Linked DNA regions of Homo sapiens. Changing the gene in region 3 together with the main gene of any one other region gives a genetic interaction. Each region holds a gene or a part of one and is shown on either strand. Other genes may lie near its edges.

The links. A genetic interaction does not mean that the proteins touch.
Region 1: of TERT (region 3) and ETV1, extra expression of one rescues a mutant of the other (dosage rescue), as found in Homo sapiens cells (one study listed by BioGRID).
Region 2: of TERT (region 3) and MUS81, a change in one rescues a mutant of the other (synthetic rescue), as found in Homo sapiens cells (one study listed by BioGRID).

What each region holds. Positions count from the first base shown.
Region 1 is NC_000007.14:13,986,667-13,994,495, reverse strand, and holds the start of ETV1 (ETS translocation variant 1), read left to right. Parts: upstream 1-4,829; 5' UTR 4,830-4,933; intron 4,934-5,031; 5' UTR 5,032-5,228; intron 5,229-5,356; 5' UTR 5,357-5,443; coding exon 5,444-5,488; intron 5,489-5,612; exon of another isoform or gene 5,613-5,652; coding exon of another isoform or gene 5,653-5,682; exon of another isoform or gene 5,683-5,729; coding exon of another isoform or gene 5,730-5,816; intron 5,817-6,322; coding exon 6,323-6,410; intron 6,411-7,810; coding exon 7,811-7,829. UniProt on the Homo sapiens protein: Transcriptional activator that binds to DNA sequences containing the consensus pentanucleotide 5'-CGGA[AT]-3'. Required for olfactory dopaminergic neuron differentiation; may directly activate expression of tyrosine hydroxylase (TH).
Region 2 is NC_000011.10:65,863,403-65,866,939, reverse strand, and holds the end of MUS81 (structure-specific endonuclease subunit MUS81), read right to left. Parts: intron 3,531-3,537; coding exon 3,438-3,530; intron 3,363-3,437; coding exon of another isoform or gene 3,341-3,362; coding exon 3,219-3,340; intron 3,140-3,218; coding exon of another isoform or gene 3,137-3,139; coding exon 3,039-3,136; intron 2,444-3,038; coding exon 2,327-2,443; intron 2,221-2,326; coding exon 2,125-2,220; intron 1,924-2,124; coding exon 1,795-1,923; exon of another isoform or gene 1,794-1,794; intron 1,721-1,793; coding exon 1,617-1,720; intron 1,130-1,616; coding exon 1,046-1,129; intron 955-1,045; coding exon 888-954; 3' UTR 501-887; downstream 1-500. Other genes in the region: EFEMP2 (EGF-containing fibulin-like extracellular matrix protein 2 precursor), read left to right, coding at 1-22. UniProt on the Homo sapiens protein: Catalytic subunit of two functionally distinct, structure-specific, heterodimeric DNA endonucleases MUS81-EME1 and MUS81-EME2 that are involved in the maintenance of genome stability.
Region 3 is NC_000005.10:1,285,047-1,292,076, reverse strand, and holds part of TERT (telomerase reverse transcriptase), read left to right. Parts: intron 1-7,030. UniProt on the Homo sapiens protein: Telomerase is a ribonucleoprotein enzyme essential for the replication of chromosome termini in most eukaryotes. Active in progenitor and cancer cells. Inactive, or very low activity, in normal somatic cells.

The DNA of each region.
Region 1 (7,829 bases), on a different chromosome or scaffold from region 3:
TTGACATACTAACTGCAACACAACCTCCTGCAACAGAATTCCCACGTGATTTGCTCAAGCCTACGGAATCAGAAACTCTATGAATCCACCCAGGGATGTCACTTTTTAACAAGGAGTGTCTTATATAATCTCAAATTTGAGAACCAACCATATAGCATACTTTTTAACAGGTATATAATGATAATTGAATTCCAAACTATAAGAGTATCATACTTTGTCAAATCCATTTCCTTATTGGTGGATACTGAAGTTGCTGCCAGATTTTTTCCTTGGTACCTAATATTTCAATAAATGTCTTCATGCACCATTGCTTTTATTTTTGTAGTATAGATTTCCCAAATGAGGATTATTGGATATAATTTTAGGGTCTAATAGATGTTCATTTTAAAGTCTAGTAGACATTGTAAGCTTACCTTCAAAAGGTTTCAAAAAGTCACATTCCAACCAGCAATATACATGAGTGCCCTTATCCTAGGATCCAACTCTAAGTATATTAGAAACTTCCTTCCAAATTGATGAGTTAAAACATTCTTTAAGGCAGGGCGCGGTGGCTCATGCCTGTAATCCTAGCACTTTGGGAGGCCAAGGTGGGCGGATCACAAGGTCAGGATTTGAGACCAGCCTGACCAATATGGTGAAACCCCATCTCTACTAAAAATACAAAAATCAGCTGGGCATGGTGGCGGGCACCTGTACTCCCAGCTACTTGGGAGGCTGAGGCAGGAGAATCACTTGAACCCAGGAGGTAGAGGTTGCAGTGAGCCGAGATCGCGCCACTGCACTTCAGCCTGGGTGACAGAGCAAGACTCTGTCTCAAAATAAATAAATAAATAAATAAATAAATAAATAAATAAATAATAAAAATAAAAAAATTCTTTATTTTTTAAGTGTACAGTATAATGTACTGATTTGGGGTGCAGTTAAAAGTTTTTTTTTCCACATTTATAAGTTGTTTGCAATTCCTCTACTTGAGGGAGTTTACAGATAGTCACCAGCTGAAAATGGCAGTATTGAGAGTGAGAGAGTATACAGCTACATAGTATCAGTTTCCTTGATACCCTTACCTTCTTCCCAGGCTCCACCCTCCTCTCAAATTTCTGCTACTCCTCACATACAGTGTTCCTGAAGCCACTGATTATCTTTCACCCTCCTGTGAGGACTCTATGTTCTCCTTTGGAATTATTTTCACTTGTTCATTTTCTTGGCCAATTTTGCTGTTTAATTTTATATCTTTTTCTTATCTATTTGATGTAACTGTGCAAACTAGATCTTTAACAATTTGCCTTACATACTGTTTTAATACAACAAATTTTAAAAGTTACTGTTTTACTTAATACTCTACTCAATTTTGAGCAAACTTCATTTGATTTTAATTATAGCAACCATTTAAAACAAGCAGCGCCATTTTAGCTTGTTGCCTTTCTGTAACTGCTTTTAGAAATTCACTTTCTTTAACAACGTGCAATTTCTTCATAATGCCATAGTAAGTTAACTGTAGAGAAGTCACTAATGAATATTATTTTACTTTATTAAATAACAGCAAGGGAAATATAAAAATTTAAATAGTTTTACATGCAACCTAAAAACTTTCCAAACTCAAAAATGGACTTTTTTTTGGAGGGGGGTAGCTTTCTCTCAAGAACTCTTATTTCAAAATCCAAATGGGATTTCAAAATACAAGCAAATAAATGTCAAAGCCTCTTGGCCTCTGCTCTGCCATTCTATGCCTGAAATCCTGCCAAAATGAAATTTTCCGTTCAAAAGGGCTGGCATTTACTAAACTGATGTTTTAAAGACATTCTCAAAAAGTAGTGGAAACTTTGTCCAGCTTTTTATGTTCCTGTCTTGTAGACAGAACAGCTGCCTTTGCAGATATTTTCCAAGATCTTACATTTTCTGAAAAACAAATTTTCAGCCCTTCCACTGTCTTCAGCAAGTGGGTCTATTGGTTTTTCCCAGTGCCAAGCAGAGAAGATAAACAACTGCCAAACTAGAAGCTAGTGTCTGAGTATCAAGGCATAGAAAGGACAGAAGAGATAGTGTTTCAGTAAGTATCAATGCAGAGAAAGGACAGAAGAGAAAGTGGGAGAAAGAAAAGAGGGTGGTTCAATCGTTCACAGTCAAGAGGGACACATTTATCTCAAAATTTTAGGCTGTTTCAACAAAACCGAGCTGTAGCGAGACTAGCTGCTTATTCACACGAGAACATCATTTTCAGTTACTATGAAGATCAAAGAGTTAAAAGATATGAGTTCGTTTAAAGAACTCAAAAGGGAAAATATGAAGCCACCGCAATACGTAGTAAAATCTGAGGCTTAACAGCGCAGCGCCTGAGAGTGCCAGTCCACTAAAGGGAGGGAGAAGGGGCGCAGAGCTTATGGGGGCCTGGGAAGGAGTGATAAGTCTTTGGAAATGGAAACTAAAGCTATCAGCCAGCGAAAACCATCAATATTCCTAAAAATATATAATACTAATAATACATAAAAGCTTTAAAAAACTAACAAGACACTGTGGGATACAAAAAAAGGTAGAAATGAAAATTACAGAATGTTAAGTGAAAAAACTGAAATCCATCTACAGTCGAACAGTTTGCACCTTTAAAAGCAATGACTTGAAGCAGCAAGCAAAAGTTCCCAGTCCTTAAGACTTTCTCCCCACTCTCAATTCTTTCTTTCCTCTAGTGCAAAAGCTGTCTAAGCAGTGCACGCCGGAATTATCCCCACGTGAGCCTTCCTTTAATTTCGGTCTTAATTTTTTTCTCTCTTGTTATTACTCCCAGACCCCAACCTCTTTTTCCTCATCTAGTATCTGTTTCAGGGACAGGACAAAGAGGAGGCAGCGAGCTGAAAAAAGTTTTGTGGTTTGGGATACTTGGGCCTTTGTTGTGTCATTTCCTCTACCCCTCCACGCCCCCAACCACGTGACCAAGAAGGGCCGGAATTTTGTGAATGGAGACGAAAGGTGGCTGTTGGGGCGGGCGGGACTCCGCCCCCTTCCCTAAAGCGGCCAATCTCCTAGCGGAGCGCTGAGGGGTCAGCAATAAACAACAATGGGCTGGGGATTTACGGCTCGTTATTGGCTGCGGGAAGAACCTCGCCGGGACCTAACCCGAAGCTCCGCCCCCTCGCGGTTACCCTGGATACCCGTCAGGCTCGGGCTGCAGAGAAGGTCTTTGGAAACTGTTGCTCAGATTACAGGCGCTGGGTTATTCCAGGAGTGCAGGGTGGTGGAGGACCCTTGTTATTGACCCCCTGCTTGGTTGCACCCTCAGATAGTACCCATGAGCTTCACTGTTCAGCCTCGGGGCCCAGGCGCTTCCTGGAATCTCTCCTTGGCCGGGGTTAAAATGCAGTTCCCGCTCAAAATGCTTATAGGTGCGCGCGTTGTGAACTCCGATTTAGTAGTTTCCGGGAATGCGCGGGGTCTGTCTTTGCTGTCCATAGTTATTGGTTGTTTTCCCAGTAATAAGTGTTGATTGTTTGTTTGTTTGCTTCTTTTTTAAGTAGATCTTTCTCCTGCCCAGGTCCGGGGTTGAGTGCTGTGCGCTCTTACACTCCATTTTAATGTGTCTCCATAACGTTCTATTTAAGGAAGGAAACTTTCAAATAGAAATTGAGAACTGCAGCACGTTTCCTAACGGGCGGAACAGCTGCCGGAAACGTCTTTTGGTCACTAGTTCTGGTCACAAATGAATTTCAACAGCATTGAGTCCCTGGTCCTATCCCCGCGGCCTCCCGTCCGCTGTTGGACACTGGCTCCTTAAAGTGACGCTTTACTGTTCTGAGTCCCATAGGAGGATCAGGGCAAGTGGCTTCAGAGATGCAGCCCTCACTGCTTAACGTCCTAGTTATTGTCCTTGAAACCCGAGCCATCTCACCGCTCGCCCCCAACCCTGGGCTCTGGCTGTTTAAAAGCTGGAGAGGAAGTGAAAGCGTCAAGTACAGTAAGTGACACCCTCCGCCTCCGTGTATACATAACAAAAGCTCAGGAAACGTGCGGGTTCTAGGATATACGAGCAACCCCAAGCACTCCCTCCTCCTCCCCACAGCCACAGTGGACTGGAAGTACCTTTTCCCAGTGCACACGTAGGGACCATTTTGACTTATACTTTTTCACCTAGCTTGCTCTGTTGTCCTCCCATCACAACCTCTGCTAATCAGCAATTCTGCATCTCCTAGGTGCCTTCCTTATAGATTCTTTATGTTTCTGTCCCACGAACGATAGGATCTAATTTTAGTTGAGGATGACTGTTTAAAAAATGTTTCGATAAACCATAATGGTGATGGTGGGTTTTGAAAAACGGGAAAATAAATTGGGCCAAAAGCTGAGTGGGAATGAGGATAGAGAGCGAGGTGAGCTCCTAGTCAGGGCAAGAGTAGAGAGGTTGGAGATCCTGAGGGGAGGGCAGCTGAATAAGGCGGTACGGGCTTTGTGGATCGCGGCTCTAAGGGTATACCAGAACCGCACAACAGTACTTTAAGGAAACCAGCCCAATAGTGGACCTAACACCCCAATAATGGGAACTGGCGACTCGAAACACACGGTTTCAGTATCCCCAGGCGCCTTAACAATAAGCAGCGGGTTACAGAGGAAATCGAGTCTCTCCGTGGCGCTTCCAGGCTGAGGACCCAGCGCCTACCGGCCGAGCACCCCCTAGGGCAGAGGGGCGAGGGAGACCCGCGGGAAGGGGCAGCAAGCCGCCTGATTGACAGCCCGAAATCTGATCTTGTGAAAGAGACGCGGAGCCAATGGGAGGCAGCGATCCATCAGTTTGGATTGGAGGCCCCTGGAGGAGAAGTAGAGGAAAAACCACCGAATTGAGCTCTGTCAGAGGCGCTTTCGGCTTCCAAGGGGGAAGTGCTGGGCTATAATTAATGTTTTTATTAAATTTGGAGGGAAGTTTTTGCAGCCTTTCGCCTAGCGTGGCCTTCAGGTGGGTCTTTCCAACAACTTTTTATGTCTCTCCAGATAATTGCATGGTTGTGGGTCGCAAAAACTATCCTGATGAAAGAGGTGTCTCCGTCTCTTTAGTCCCGTTAGGTGCAAAGCAAGTCTCGTTGATCGCCATTGCTAGTTTTGCACACGTTTGCGAATCAGAGCTGCCCGGGGTACACCGACCGCGCAGGGAAACATCGAGAGTGTAAATAAATACATCGCCTCTTGTTCGGATTTTTGCTACTACCGAAAATATGTAAATTGTGAACTCTGTTGGCTCTCTTTGGATCCAGGTGAAGGAGGCGGTGTAGGGAGGGTTATTTTTGTGAATGGGACTGTCGGAGGGTAATTAGCTATGCAAATTCAAGAGCTTCATTCATGATTTTTTTTTAAGCCTAAAAGCCATCTTGTTCCCCTCTAGGTTGATAGAAGTCCAGATCCTGAGGAAATCTCCAGCTAAATGCTCAAAATATAAAATACTGAGCTGAGATTTGCGAAGAGCAGCAGCATGGATGGATTTTATGACCAGCAAGTGCCTTACATGGTCACCAATGTGAGTGATCAGTTTGAAAGTTGCTGTTTATAAACTTGACTCCGTCGGGGGTGGGGAGAGGGAGAAAATGAGAAGGGAGGGGGCACGGGGGTTGGGATTGCAGATACTTATCTGCTTTGTTGCCACTGTAGGGCGACTCTGCTTCTAGAAGCCCAGTCTTCAAAATGAGCTTACCTTTCAGTGATTTGGATAAGGCATAGTTTTGTTTTTAAGACCCCTTTTTCTGATTAAAGTGCCCAACATGAGTGGAAGAGGAGATGGAGGGCAGCAGCAGCTGCTGCACTCAAAGTTTTTGGCTGGGTTTGTCTGCCACATTGAAAAGAATGAAGTTGAGACAAATGCTGACACTTTTTGTTTATATGGGGTGTTTTTGTTTCTTTTTTTTTTCTCATTTTCTCTTTTTTTTTTTTTTCATTTCTCTACTCTTTTTGCTTTTTTTTTTTGTGGGGGTGGGGTGGGGAGGAGGGGCTGTCCAAGAGAGAATAAAACCCACTGTTTTAATCTAGCATTGAACCAGCCTAAAAACAACTTTAAGTGTAAATGCTTCAGGTTGTTTTGATGCTGAGATACCATGAATATATGATTGATAAATAGTAATGTGCTAAGATCGGCACTGGGAAGCAACTCTCCCTGCCTGCTTAACATAAGCTTTCACTGTCAAATAAGTGAGAAAATGAATATTAGAGTTGATACTATGGACTTCTATTTTTCTATTCAGAGAAGATCCATTAGACTTATGTATGCATGTCTGTGTGTGTGTGTGTGCGCGCGCGTGTGCGTGTGTGTGATCTGAGGTTTACATTCTTTTAAAGGATTTTATCTTTCCCTTTGTAGAGTCAGCGTGGGAGAAATTGTAACGAGAAACCAACAAATGTCAGGAAAAGAAAATTCATTAACAGAGATCTGGCTCATGATTCAGAAGGTGAGGTTTGATTTTGGGCTGAATCCCCATTTTTTTACCTACACTCTCCACCCTGCTAAAAGAAAAGGAGCACTTCAGTCTTATCTTAAAAATAATAAACTTTGAAATTACTGAATCTAACTAAGACTTTAACTTGGAACGATTTACATAATGCGGCAGTTTGCATGGGAGACTATTTTATGGTCCTATCACAAAGTAATGAAAGAAGGAAATAAAAACTTCTCAATGACAACCTTCTTTTAATCATTGTTTTGTGTTTAAATACCTTTGTCCATGGGGCATATAACTCACCCCATTCACTAAGATAACAATTTAAAAATATCCAATACAGTGGGACAAATTCAGCAGCTATGTACACTGCTTACTTTTTTCTTTCTCCTTTATTACAAGTTAAACAGTATTAGTGATTGTTTGGTTTCCCACCTCCTTTACACTAAAACCATCTACTATTAACAGAATTTTCAAGGGTGATTTTGATGACTAAATTGTGAGGTCATAATACCTTGTTTATCGACCATAATGTGTTCACTGAATCATACTTAAGGCCTCCTTAATAATTATAATACTATTTGGGAAATTAGTTTGCAGATTCTTTTTATGAACTGTTGCTAGGATGTCAGTATGTTACAAATTATTTTAGCCATATGAGGACATTCATAATAAACTTAATATACTTAGATTTAATTATCAAAGTTTAGTTGGCAATTTTAATTAGATATACTGAATTCTGAAACTTCCTCAAATCTTCATACCATTTAAATACCTCCCTCTCTCCCTCCCTAACATGACCATATAGTTTAGAACTTGATGAGAACCTGGTGCCAAAGAATTATCTTTCTGACTTTTATAAACCTATTAATGTAGAAATTTTCCTCTAAAAACTTGTATTTGAAGTGGTTTCTTTTAGTTTCGAGGTATTGAAGTTGAAAACATAATACTTTGACAGTTGTACCATGTACCATTATATATTTTATGTAAGATTCAGAAGATATAAATAAAATGCTTTTCAGTCTTTCTAATCTTCCCCCTACTACTATTTTAGCAAGAGTTAAATATATTTAAGGAAGATTTCAGTGAACAGACACATATTCACCTCAGCCTTTTTGTGAATTCTGGTATCCCTGAGCTTATTTATTAAGCTGTTTGTTAAAAAGAAGAAAAGATGATTGACTTTATTCTTTAGTTGACTAAAATAATTTCTTAAAGAGTTGCTTAATAGGCATGAAAAGTAGGCAGTATTATTGAGATATTTAAGTTATGCCTCTTTTTTTTATTTTTATGTTGACTGCGTCTCTTGAAATTAAATTTATATTTAATACCAATTTCATGACAAATATTTCCATTTAATGAAGATTAAAGATTTGCAAATCTTATGTTTATGTCTTTGACTTGTTTTTTAGAACTCTTTCAAGATCTAAG
Region 2 (3,537 bases), on a different chromosome or scaffold from region 3:
TGTAGGGGCCTACACCTTCTGAGGAGCAGGAGGGAGCCACCCTCCCTGCAGCTACCCTAGCTGAGGAGCCTGTTGTGAGGGGCAGAATGAGAAAGGCAATAAAGGGAGAAAGAAAGTCCTGGTGGCTGAGGTGGGCGGGTCACACTGCAGGAAGCCTCAGGCTGGGGCAGGGTGGCACTTGGGGGGGCAGGCCAAGTTCACCTAAATGGGGGTCTCTATATGTTCAGGCCCAGGGGCCCCCATTGACAGGAGCTGGGAGCTCTGCACCACGAGCTTCAGTCACCCCGAGAGGAGAGGAGGTAACGAGGAGGGCGGACTCCAGGCCCCGGCCCAGAGATTTGGACTTGGCTGGCTTGCAGGGGTCCTAAGAAACTCCACTCTGGACAGCGCCAGGAGGCCCTGGGTTCCATTCCTAACTCTGCCTCAAACTGTACATTTGGATAAGCCCTAGTAGTTCCCTGGGCCTGTTTTTCTATAAAACGAGGCAACTGGACTGTTAGTGGTTTTCAATCTTTTCTTTTAGGAAGTTTTATTTATTTTTATTATTTTTATTTTCCCAATGAGCCCTCTGCACTCCTAAGGAAATTTTATTTGATGAGGACCAACTGGTGACATAAAATAGATTCCAAGCTGCAATGCCCCACTGACTCCATCTCCCTGACCAGGGAATTCCAGGTGCTAAGCAGCTTTGTTTAAAAACCACTGGACCAGATGGTATCCCTGGTTCCTGCGTATTTCACAAGGTCCCCAGGGCTAGGCATCTTCTACATGACACATATGGCTGCAAACACTTAGATTCTAATTGTACCCCAAAAGATGTTGTTAAAAGGCTGGCTAGCCTGGGTTGGGGGACAGACGGGGGCTGGGGGCTGTTTCACGGCATAAGCTCAGGTCAAGGGGCCGTAGCTGCAGTAGAGCTGGGATAAGGTCCTGCTCAGAGCAGGCCCCAGATTCCTGCAGGAAGAGAGGCAGCGAGGGTCACGCCCTGGGCCTAGGGCAGCCCCAGTCCCTGCCACTCCCTCCAGGTTCCGTCTCTTGCCCTCACCTCTGTAGACGCCCACACTTAATGGTGCTCAGCAGTGTCTCTTGTTCCTTGGGGGTGGCACAGGCATCATAGGCGGCCAGGAGGCTGGGGGGCAGGGGTTTGAGTTTCTGAGGCTGACAGTGGCCCACTCTGGGCCAGCACCATGAGGGGCCAGGCAGAGGGGTCAGCATGGGATGGAAGAGTTGGGACACTGCCCCACTTCCTGAGCTTGGCACTCAAGGCCCCATGCCAGCCGGGCTGTCCTCCCTCCCTGTGGGAACTCTGGGGCAAAACCAGCAAAGGCTCCAAACCTTCACCCTCACTCCCCTTAATGGCCCAACCCCTTCTCCAGGAAGCCTCTTCTCCACCAGGTGGGACGTCTCCCTCCCTCCTGTGGCCTCCACTACCTGGGACACTATGTGGGCCTGCTGGCTTCCTCCCCACTTGACCTCCACGAGCACCCTGGGATCTGTCTATCTCTGGTCTGCAGAGCCCACACAAGGCCAGGCCCCCTCCACGAAGCATGGATTAAGGTGAATTCCATGCATGGAGGGCAGGGGCTGAGGACACCTAAGGGCCCTTTAGGGCCTACCTGGCAGGGGTGCTGTATCGATCCACCAGGGCTGCTGCCTTCTCCCCACTCACTCCGCGCACCTGCATCAGCTGCCGGGCAAACACTTCTCGCACCGACTGGGCCTGGGTTCGGGAAAGGGCTGGATCAGTGGGGGTCTGGGCCAGGCCATGTCTGAGAAGCTAGGCAGAGACAGTACCTTATTCTTGATGGCTCCTGCGTTGAAGTCACTGAAGGTGAGGAGTGAGCAGAGAGGGTTTGGAGAGGTCATGGCCCCTGATTCAGGGTTCCCAGGGGTTCCCCAGGGGCGGCTGCGTAGGGTGTGGCCCTGAGGGAAGAAGGGACTGAGGCCAGGCTGGAGCTCGAAGGAACAACTCCAGCCAGCCCCTGCCCAGTCCTCAGCCTTGGGGGGCCAGCCTGAGAAATGGGGATCTCACCCACCTTGCTTCTTTTGGGGATGCACAGGGCCCAGGCAAGGTGAATTCCTTGTGGGCTCTGTCCCGACACTGGGAAAGGGGCCTCTGCTCACCTGGTAGAGTCTCTGCAGGCCCCGCGTCAAGAGGGCCAGGTAGGCGGCTGACTCCTTAATGTCTGCTGTGCGCTTCACAAAAAAGCCATCAATGACCTGGGGAAGAGGACCCAAGAGAGGGAAGGTGGCTCCTGGCCTAGACCATGAACCATGGACCACAGGGGCCCCTGCCTGCCTGCCTGGCCCTGCCCTCCCAGCTCACCTGAGTGTTGGTGACAGCCTGCAGCAGTGTGCTCTCAGGAAGGCTGAGGTTGTGGACGGAACCATGCTCTTCCACCAGGTATACCCGGCGCTCCAGACCACAGCGCTTCAGCCGGAACTAGGGAAGTGTACAGAGTGGACAGGGAGGGTCAGGCTGGATGACCACATGCCTGGGCATCCATGATGTCACACTCAAAATGGTGCCGGGACCCTGTTCCCACCAGTTAGCCTCTGCATCCTCCCTAGCCTCTCCACCTGCCTCACAGGGGCCTCCGCAGCTTTGCTCATGCTGACACTCTTGTCTAGAAAGCCTTTTCTCCATCTCTCAACACTGCCCATCCTTCAAGCCTCCCCTGGGCCGGCACATGGCCTCTGTGACTAGGGGTCCACCCAGCAGCAAGTACCAAGGTACAGCCTCTGTATTTCCACTCCTGGAGGTTTATGCCTTGTTTATCCAAGACTGCAGGGGCTGGGTACCCAAGAGGTCTTTAAAATGCTCCTGACCTCAGCCCAAGAATGCAGGTACCTGGCTTCCTACTGTGCGCCTGGATGGGCCTGTGGGGGTCTGATCCTGGAGCAGCCACAGGGTGGGTGTGGCTGGATTCCAAAGGGCTCTGCCTCAAGGAGGCTGCCAGAAGTGCCCCTGGATTGCTCTGGGCTGAAAACGGGGCTTCGGAGCAGGCAGGGAAGCCTGGCAAAGCCAGCAAAATTACCTTCTGCTCCCGGAAGCGGCCGTCGATGATGCTGCTGCAAAGGTCATCCAGTCGCTTGCGCTCCACAATGTGATCCAGTACCAACTCCCCAGGGTTTGCTGCTGACAAGCCAGCCGTTAGCTTGCGATCCCCTACCCACCAGGCCCTGCCCCTGGTGCCAGCCTGTCCACGGCCCTTCACCTGGGTCTCTAGGATTGGTCTCCTGGGCCACCCACACAAAATCTCCAACGTGCAGCTTGCGCACCGTGTGGGTCACGTGCAGCCGCTGTAGCTCTCGGAGCAGCTCCGGCCTGTGCCCGCCCCTGGAGTGGCAAGGAGGGAAGCCTAGATCAGAGCAGGGCAGTGCCTACCCCCCAGCCTCCTCTGATCATCTCCCTCGTTTCTCCCCACCTCACTCACCCCCGGGTCTCGCCAATGTCCACACACAACAGCACCCTGTACTCTCCAGGCCTCAGCTCCAGTGGCTGCTGCTGGACCCCTGCTTCACTGGCACTAAGTG
Region 3 (7,030 bases):
CGTTTTCTGTGTACAGTGCAGAATTGCTAACTCGGCGGTGTTTACAGCAGGTTGCTTGAAATGCTGCGTCTTGCGTGACTGGAAGTCCCTACCCATCGAACGGCAGCTGCCTCACACCTGCTGCGGCTCAGGTGGACCACGCCGAGTCAGATAAGCGTCATGCAACCCAGTTTTGCTTTTTGTGCTCCAGCTTCCTTCGTTGAGGAGAGTTTGAGTTCTCTGATCAGGACTCTGCCTGTCATTGCTGTTCTCTGACTTCAGATGAGGTCACAATCTGCCCCTGGCTTATGCAGGGAGTGAGGCGTGGTCCCCGGGTGTCCCTGTCACGTGCAGGGTGAGTGAGGCGTTGCCCCCAGGTGTCCCTGTCACGTGTAGGGTGAGTGAGGCGCGGCCCCCGGGTGTCCCTGTCCCGTGCAGCGTGATTGAGGTGTGGCCCCCGGGTGTCCCTGTCCCGTGCAGGGTGAGTGAGGCACTGTCCCCGGGTGTCCCTGTCACGTGCAGGGTGAGTGAGGCGCGGTCCCCGGGTGTCCCTGTCACGTGTAGGGTGAGTGAGGCACTGTCCCCGGGTGTCCCTCTCAGGTGTAGGGTGAGTGAGGCGCCGTCCCCGGGTGTCCCTGTCACGTGTAGGGTGAGTGAGGCGTGGTCCCCGGGTGTCCCTGTCCCGTGCAGGGTGAGTGAGGCGCTGTCCCCGGGTGTCCCTGTCACGTGCAGGGTGAGTGAGGCGCGGTCCCCGGGTGTCCCTGTCACGTGTAGGGTGAGTGAGGCACCGTCCCTGGGTGTCCCTCCCAGGTGTAGGGTGAGTGAGGCGCTGTCCCCGGGTGTCCCTCTCAGGTGTAGGGTGAGTGAGGCGCGGCCCCAGGTGTCCCTGTCACGTGTAGGGTGAGTGAGGCACCGTCCCTGGGTGTCCCTCCCAGGTATAGGGTGAGTGAGGCACTGTCCCCGGGTGTCCCTGTCACGTGCAGGGTGAGTGAGGCGCGGTCCCCAGGTGTCCCTGTCACGTGTAGGGTGAGTGAGGCACTGTCCCCGGGTGTCCCTGTCCCGTGCAGGGTGAGTGAGGCGCGGTCCCCAGGTGTCCCTGTCCCGTGCAGGGTGAGTGAGGCGCCGTCCCCGGGTGTCCCTGTCACGTGCAGGGTGAGTGAGGCACGGCCCCCGGGTGTCCCTGTCACGTGCAGGGTGAGTGAGGCGCGGCCCCCGGGTGTCCCTGTCACGTGCAGGGTGAGTGAGGCGCGGCCCCCGGGTGTCCCTGTCACGTGCAGGGTGAGTGAGGCGCGGTCCCCGGGTGTCCCTGTCACGTGCAGGGTGAGTGAGGCGCGGTCCCCGGGTGTCCCTGTCACGTGCAGGGTGAGTGAGGCGCGGTCCCCGGGTGTCCCTGTCACGTGCAGGGTGAGTGAGGCACGGTCCCCGGGTGTCCCTGTCCCGTGTAGGGTGAGTGAGGCACTGTCCCCGGGTGTCCCTGTCACGTTCAGGGTGAGTGAGGCGCGGTCCCCGGGTGTCCCTGTCACGTGTAGGGTGAGTGAGGCACCGTCCCCGGGTGTCCCTGTCACGTGCAGGGTGAGTGAGGCGCTGTCCCCGGGTGTCCCTGTCACGTGCAGGGTGATTGACGCGAGGCCCCCGGGTGTCCCTGTCACGTGCAGGGTGAGTGAGGCGCCGTCCCCGCGTGTCCCTGTCACGTGCAGGGTGAGTGAGGCGCCGTCCCCGGGTGTCCCTGTCACGTGTAGGGTGAGTGAGGTGCCGTCCCCGGGTGTCCCTGTCACGTGTAGGGTGAGTGAGGCGCCGTCCCCGGGTGTCCCTGTCACGTTCAGGGTGAGTGAGGCACGGCCCCCGGGTGTCCCTGTCACGTGTAGGGTGAGTGAGGCGCGGTCCCCGGGTGTCACTGTCACGTGTAGGGTGAGTGAGGCACTGTCCCCGGGTGTCCCTGTCACGTGTAGGGTGAGTGAGGCGCGGCCCCCGGGTGTCCCTGTCACGTGCAGGGTGAGTGAGGCGCGGCCCCCGGGTGTCCCTGTCACGTGTAGGGTGAGTGAGGCGCGGCCCCCGGGTGTCCCTGTCACGTGCAGGGTGAGTGAGGCGCGGCCCCCGGGTGTCCCTGTCACGTGCAGGGTGAGTGAGGCGCGGCCCCCGGGTGTCCCTGTCACGTGCAGGGTGAGTGAGGCACGGCCCCCGGGTGTCCCTGTCACGTGCAGGGTGAGTGAGGCGCGGCCCCCGGGTGTCCCTGTCACTTGCAGGGTGAGTGAGGCACTGTCCCCGGGTGTCCCTGTCACGTTCAGGGTGAGTGAGGCGCGGTCCCCGGGTGTCCCTGTCACGTGTAGGGTGAATGAGGCACTGTCCCCGGGTGTCCCTGTCACGTGCAGGGTGAGTGAGGCGCCGTCCCCGGGTGTCCCTGTCACGTGCAGGGTGATTGACGCGAGGCCCCCGGGTGTCCCTGTCACGTGCAGGGTGAGTGAGGCGCCGTCCCCGCGTGTCCCTGTCACGTGCAGGGTGAGTGAGGCGCCGTCCCCGGGTGTCCCTGTCACGTGTAGGGTGAGTGAGGCGCCGTCCCCGGGTGTCCCTGTCACGTGTAGGGTGAGTGAGGCGCCGTCCCCGGGTGTCCCTGTCACGTGTAGGGTGAGTGAGGCGCCGTCCCCGGGTGTCCCTGTCACGTGTAGGGTGAGTGAGGCGCCGTCCCCGGGTGTCCCTGTCACGTGCAGGGTGAGTGAGGCCCCGTCCCCGGGTGTCCCTGTCACGTGTAGGGTGAGTGAGGCACTGTCCCCGGGTGTCTCTGTCACGTGTAGGGTGAGTGAGGCGCCGTCCCTGGGTGTCCCTCTCAGGTGTAGGGTGAGTGAGGCGCCATCCCCGGGTGTCCCTGTCACGTGTAGGGTGAGTGAGGCGCCGTCCCCGGGTGTCCCTGTCACGTGTAGGGTGAGTGAGTTGCGGCCCCCGGGTGTCCCTCTCAGGTGCAGGGTGAGTGAGGCGCTGTCCCTGGGTGTCCCTGTCTCGTGTAGGGTGAGTGAGGCTCTGTCCCCAGGTGTCCTTGGCGTTTGCTCACTTGAGCTTGCTCCTGAATGTTTGCTCTTTCTATAGCCACAGCTGCGCCGGTTGCCCATTGCCTGGGTAGATGGTGCAGGCGCAGTGCTGGTCCCCAAGCCTATCTTTTCTGATGCTCGGCTCTTCTTGGTCACCTCTCCGTTCCATTTTGCTACGGGGACACGGGACTGCAGGCTCTCGCCTCCCGCGTGCCAGGCACTGCAGCCACAGCTTCAGGTCCGCTTGCCTCTGTTGGGCCTGGCTTGCTCACCACGTGCCCGCCACATGCATGCTGCCAATACTCCTCTCCCAGCTTGTCTCATGCCGAGGCTGGACTCTGGGCTGCCTGTGTCTGCTGCCACGTGTTGCTGGAGACATCCCAGAAAGGGTTCTCTGTGCCCTGAAGGAAAGCAAGTCACCCCAGCCCCCTCACTTGTCCTGTTTTCTCCCAAGCTGCCCCTCTGCTTGGCCCCCTTGGGTGGGTGGCAACGCTTGTCACCTTATTCTGGGCACCTGCCGCTCATTGCTTAGGCTGGGCTCTGCCTCCAGTCGCCCCCTCACATGGATTGACGTCCAGCCACAGGTTGGAGTGTCTCTGTCTGTCTCCTGCTCTGAGACCCACGTGGAGGGCCGGTGTCTCCGCCAGCCTTCGTCAGACTTCCCTCTTGGGTCTTAGTTTTGAATTTCACTGATTTACCTCTGACGTTTCTATCTCTCCATTGTATGCTTTTTCTTGGTTTATTCTTTCATTCCTTTTCTAGCTTCTTAGTTTAGTCATGCCTTTCCCTCTAAGTGCTGCCTTACCTGCACCCTGTGTTTTGATGTGAAGTAATCTCAACATCAGCCACTTTCAAGTGTTCTTAAAATACTTCAAAGTGTTAATACTTCTTTTAAGTATTCTTATTCTGTGATTTTTTTCTTTGTGCACGCTGTGTTTTGACGTGAAATCATTTTGATATCAGTGACTTTTAAGTATTCTTTAGCTTATTCTGTGATTTCTTTGAGCAGTGAGTTATTTGAACACTGTTTATGTTCAAGATATGTAGAGTATCAAGATACGTAGAGTATTTTAAGTTATCATTTTATTATTGATTTCTAACTCAGTTGTGTAGTGGTCTGTATAATACCAATTATTTGAAGTTTGCGGAGCCTTGCTTTGTGATCTAGTGTGTGCATGGTTTCCAGAACTGTCCATTGTAAATTTGACATCCTGTCAATAGTGGGCATGCATGTTCACTATATCCAGCTTATTAAGGTCCAGTGCAAAGCTTCTGTCTCCTTCTAGATGCATGAAATTCCAAGAAGGAGGCCATAGTCCCTCACCTGGGGGATGGGTCTGTTCATTTCTTCTCGTTTGGTAGCATTTATGTGAGGCATTGTTAGGTGCATGCACGTGGTAGAATTTTTATCTTCCTGATGAGTGAATCTTTTGGAGACTTCTATGTCTCTAGTAATCTAGTAATTCTTTTTTTAAATTGCTCTTAGTACTGCCACACTGGGCTTCTTTTGATTAGTATTTTCCTGCTGTGTCTGTTTTCTGCCTTTAATTTATATATATATATATATATTTTTTTTTTTTGAGACAGAGTCTTGGTCTGTCGCCCAGGGTGAGTGCAGTGGTGTGATCACAGGTCAGTGTAACTTTTACCTTCTGGCCTGAGCCGTCCTCTCACCTCAGCCTCCTGAATAGCTGGAACTGCAGACACGCACCGCTACACCTGGCTAATTTTTAAATTTTTTCTGGAGACAGGGTCTTGCTGTGTTGCCCAGGCTGGTCTCAAACTCTTGGACTCAAGGGATCCATCTACCTCGGCTTCCCAAAGTGCTGAATTACAGGCATGAGCCACCATGTCTGGCCTAATTTTCAACACTTTTATATTCTTATAGTGTGGGTATGTCCTGTTAACAGCATGTAGGTGAATTTCCAATCCAGTCTGACAGTCGTTGTTTAACTGGATAACCTGATTTATTTTCATTTTTTTGTCACTAGAGACCCGCCTGGTGCACTCTGATTCTCCACTTGCCTGTTGCATGTCCTCGTTCCCTTGTTTCTCACCACCTCTTGGGTTGCCATGTGCGTTTCCTGCCGAGTGTGTGTTGATCCTCTCGTTGCCTCCTGGTCACTGGGCATTTGCTTTTATTTCTCTTTGCTTAGTGTTACCCCCTGATCTTTTTATTGTCGTTGTTTGCTTTTGTTTATTGAGACAGTCTCACTCTGTCACCCAGGCTGGAGTGTAATGGCACAATCTCGGCTCACTGCAACCTCTGCCTCCTCGGTTCAAGCAGTTCTCATTCCTCAACCTCATGAGTAGCTGGGATTACAGGCGCCCACCACCACGCCTGGCTAATTTTTGTATTTTTAGTAGAGATAGGCTTTCACCATGTTGGCCAGGCTGGTCTCAAACTCCTGACCTCAAGTGATCTGCCCGCCTTGGCCTCCCACAGTGCTGGGATTACAGGTGCAAGCCACCGTGCCCGGCATACCTTGATCTTTTAAAATGAAGTCTGAAACATTGCTACCCTTGTCCTGAGCAATAAGACCCTTAGTGTATTTTAGCTCTGGCCACCCCCCAGCCTGTGTGCTGTTTTCCCTGCTGACTTAGTTCTATCTCAGGCATCTTGACACCCCCACAAGCTAAGCATTATTAATATTGTTTTCCGTGTTGAGTGTTTCTGTAGCTTTGCCCCCGCCCTGCTTTTCCTCCTTTGTTCCCCGTCTGTCTTCTGTCTCAGGCCCGCCGTCTGGGGTCCCCTTCCTTGTCCTTTGCGTGGTTCTTCTGTCTTGTTATTGCTGGTAAACCCCAGCTTTACCTGTGCTGGCCTCCATGGCATCTAGCGACGTCCGGGGACCTCTGCTTATGATGCACAGATGAAGATGTGGAGACTCACGAGGAGGGCGGTCATCTTGGCCCGTGAGTGTCTGGAGCACCACGTGGCCAGCGTTCCTTAGCCAGTGAGTGACAGCAACGTCCGCTCGGCCTGGGTTCAGCCTGGAAAACCCCAGGCATGTCGGGGTCTGGTGGCTCCGCGGTGTCGAGTTTGAAATCGCGCAAACCTGCGGTGTGGCGCCAGCTCTGACGGTGCTGCCTGGCGGGGGAGTGTCTGCTTCCTCCCTTCTGCTTGGGAACCAGGACAAAGGATGAGGCTCCGAGCCGTTGTCGCCCAACAGGAGCATGACGTGAGCCATGTGGATAATTTTAAAATTTCTAGGCTGGGCGCGGTGGCTCACGCCTGTAATCCCAGCACTTTGGGAGGCCAAGGCGGGTGGATCACGAGGTCAGGAGGTCGAGACCATCCTGGCCAACATGATGAAACCCCATCTGTACTAAAAACACAAAAATTAGCTGGGCGTGGTGGCGGGTGCCTGTAATCCCAGCTACTCGGGAGGCTGAGGCAGGAGAATTGCTTGAACCTGGGAGTTGGAAGTTGCAGTGAGCCGACATTGCACCACTGCACTCCAGCCTGGCAACACAGCGAGACTCTGTCTCAAAAAAAAAAAAAAAAAAAAAAATTCTAGTAGCCACATTAAAAAAGTAAAAAAGAAAAGGTGAAATTAATGTAATAATAGATTTTACTGAAGCCCAGCATGTCCACACCTCATCATTTTAGGGTGTTATTGGTGGGAGCATCACTCACAGGACATTTGACATTTTTTGAGCTTTGTCTGCGGGATCCCGTGTGTAGGTCCCGTGCGTGGCCATCTCGGCCTGGACCTGCTGGGCTTCCCATGGCCATGGCTGTTGTACCAGATGGTGCAGGTCCGGGATGAGGTCGCCAGGCCCTCAGTGAGCTGGATGTGCAGTGTCCGGATGGTGCACGTCTGGGATGAGGTCGCCAGGCCCTGCTGTGAGCTGGATGTGTGGTGTCTGGATGGTGCAGGTCAGGGGTGAGGTCTCCAGGCCCTCGGTGAGCTGGAGGTATGGAGTCCGGATGATGCAGGTCCGGGGTGAGGTCGCCAGGCCCTGCTGTGAGCTGGATGTGTGGTGTCTGGATGGTGCAGGTCAGGGGTGAGGTCTCCAGGCCCTCGGTG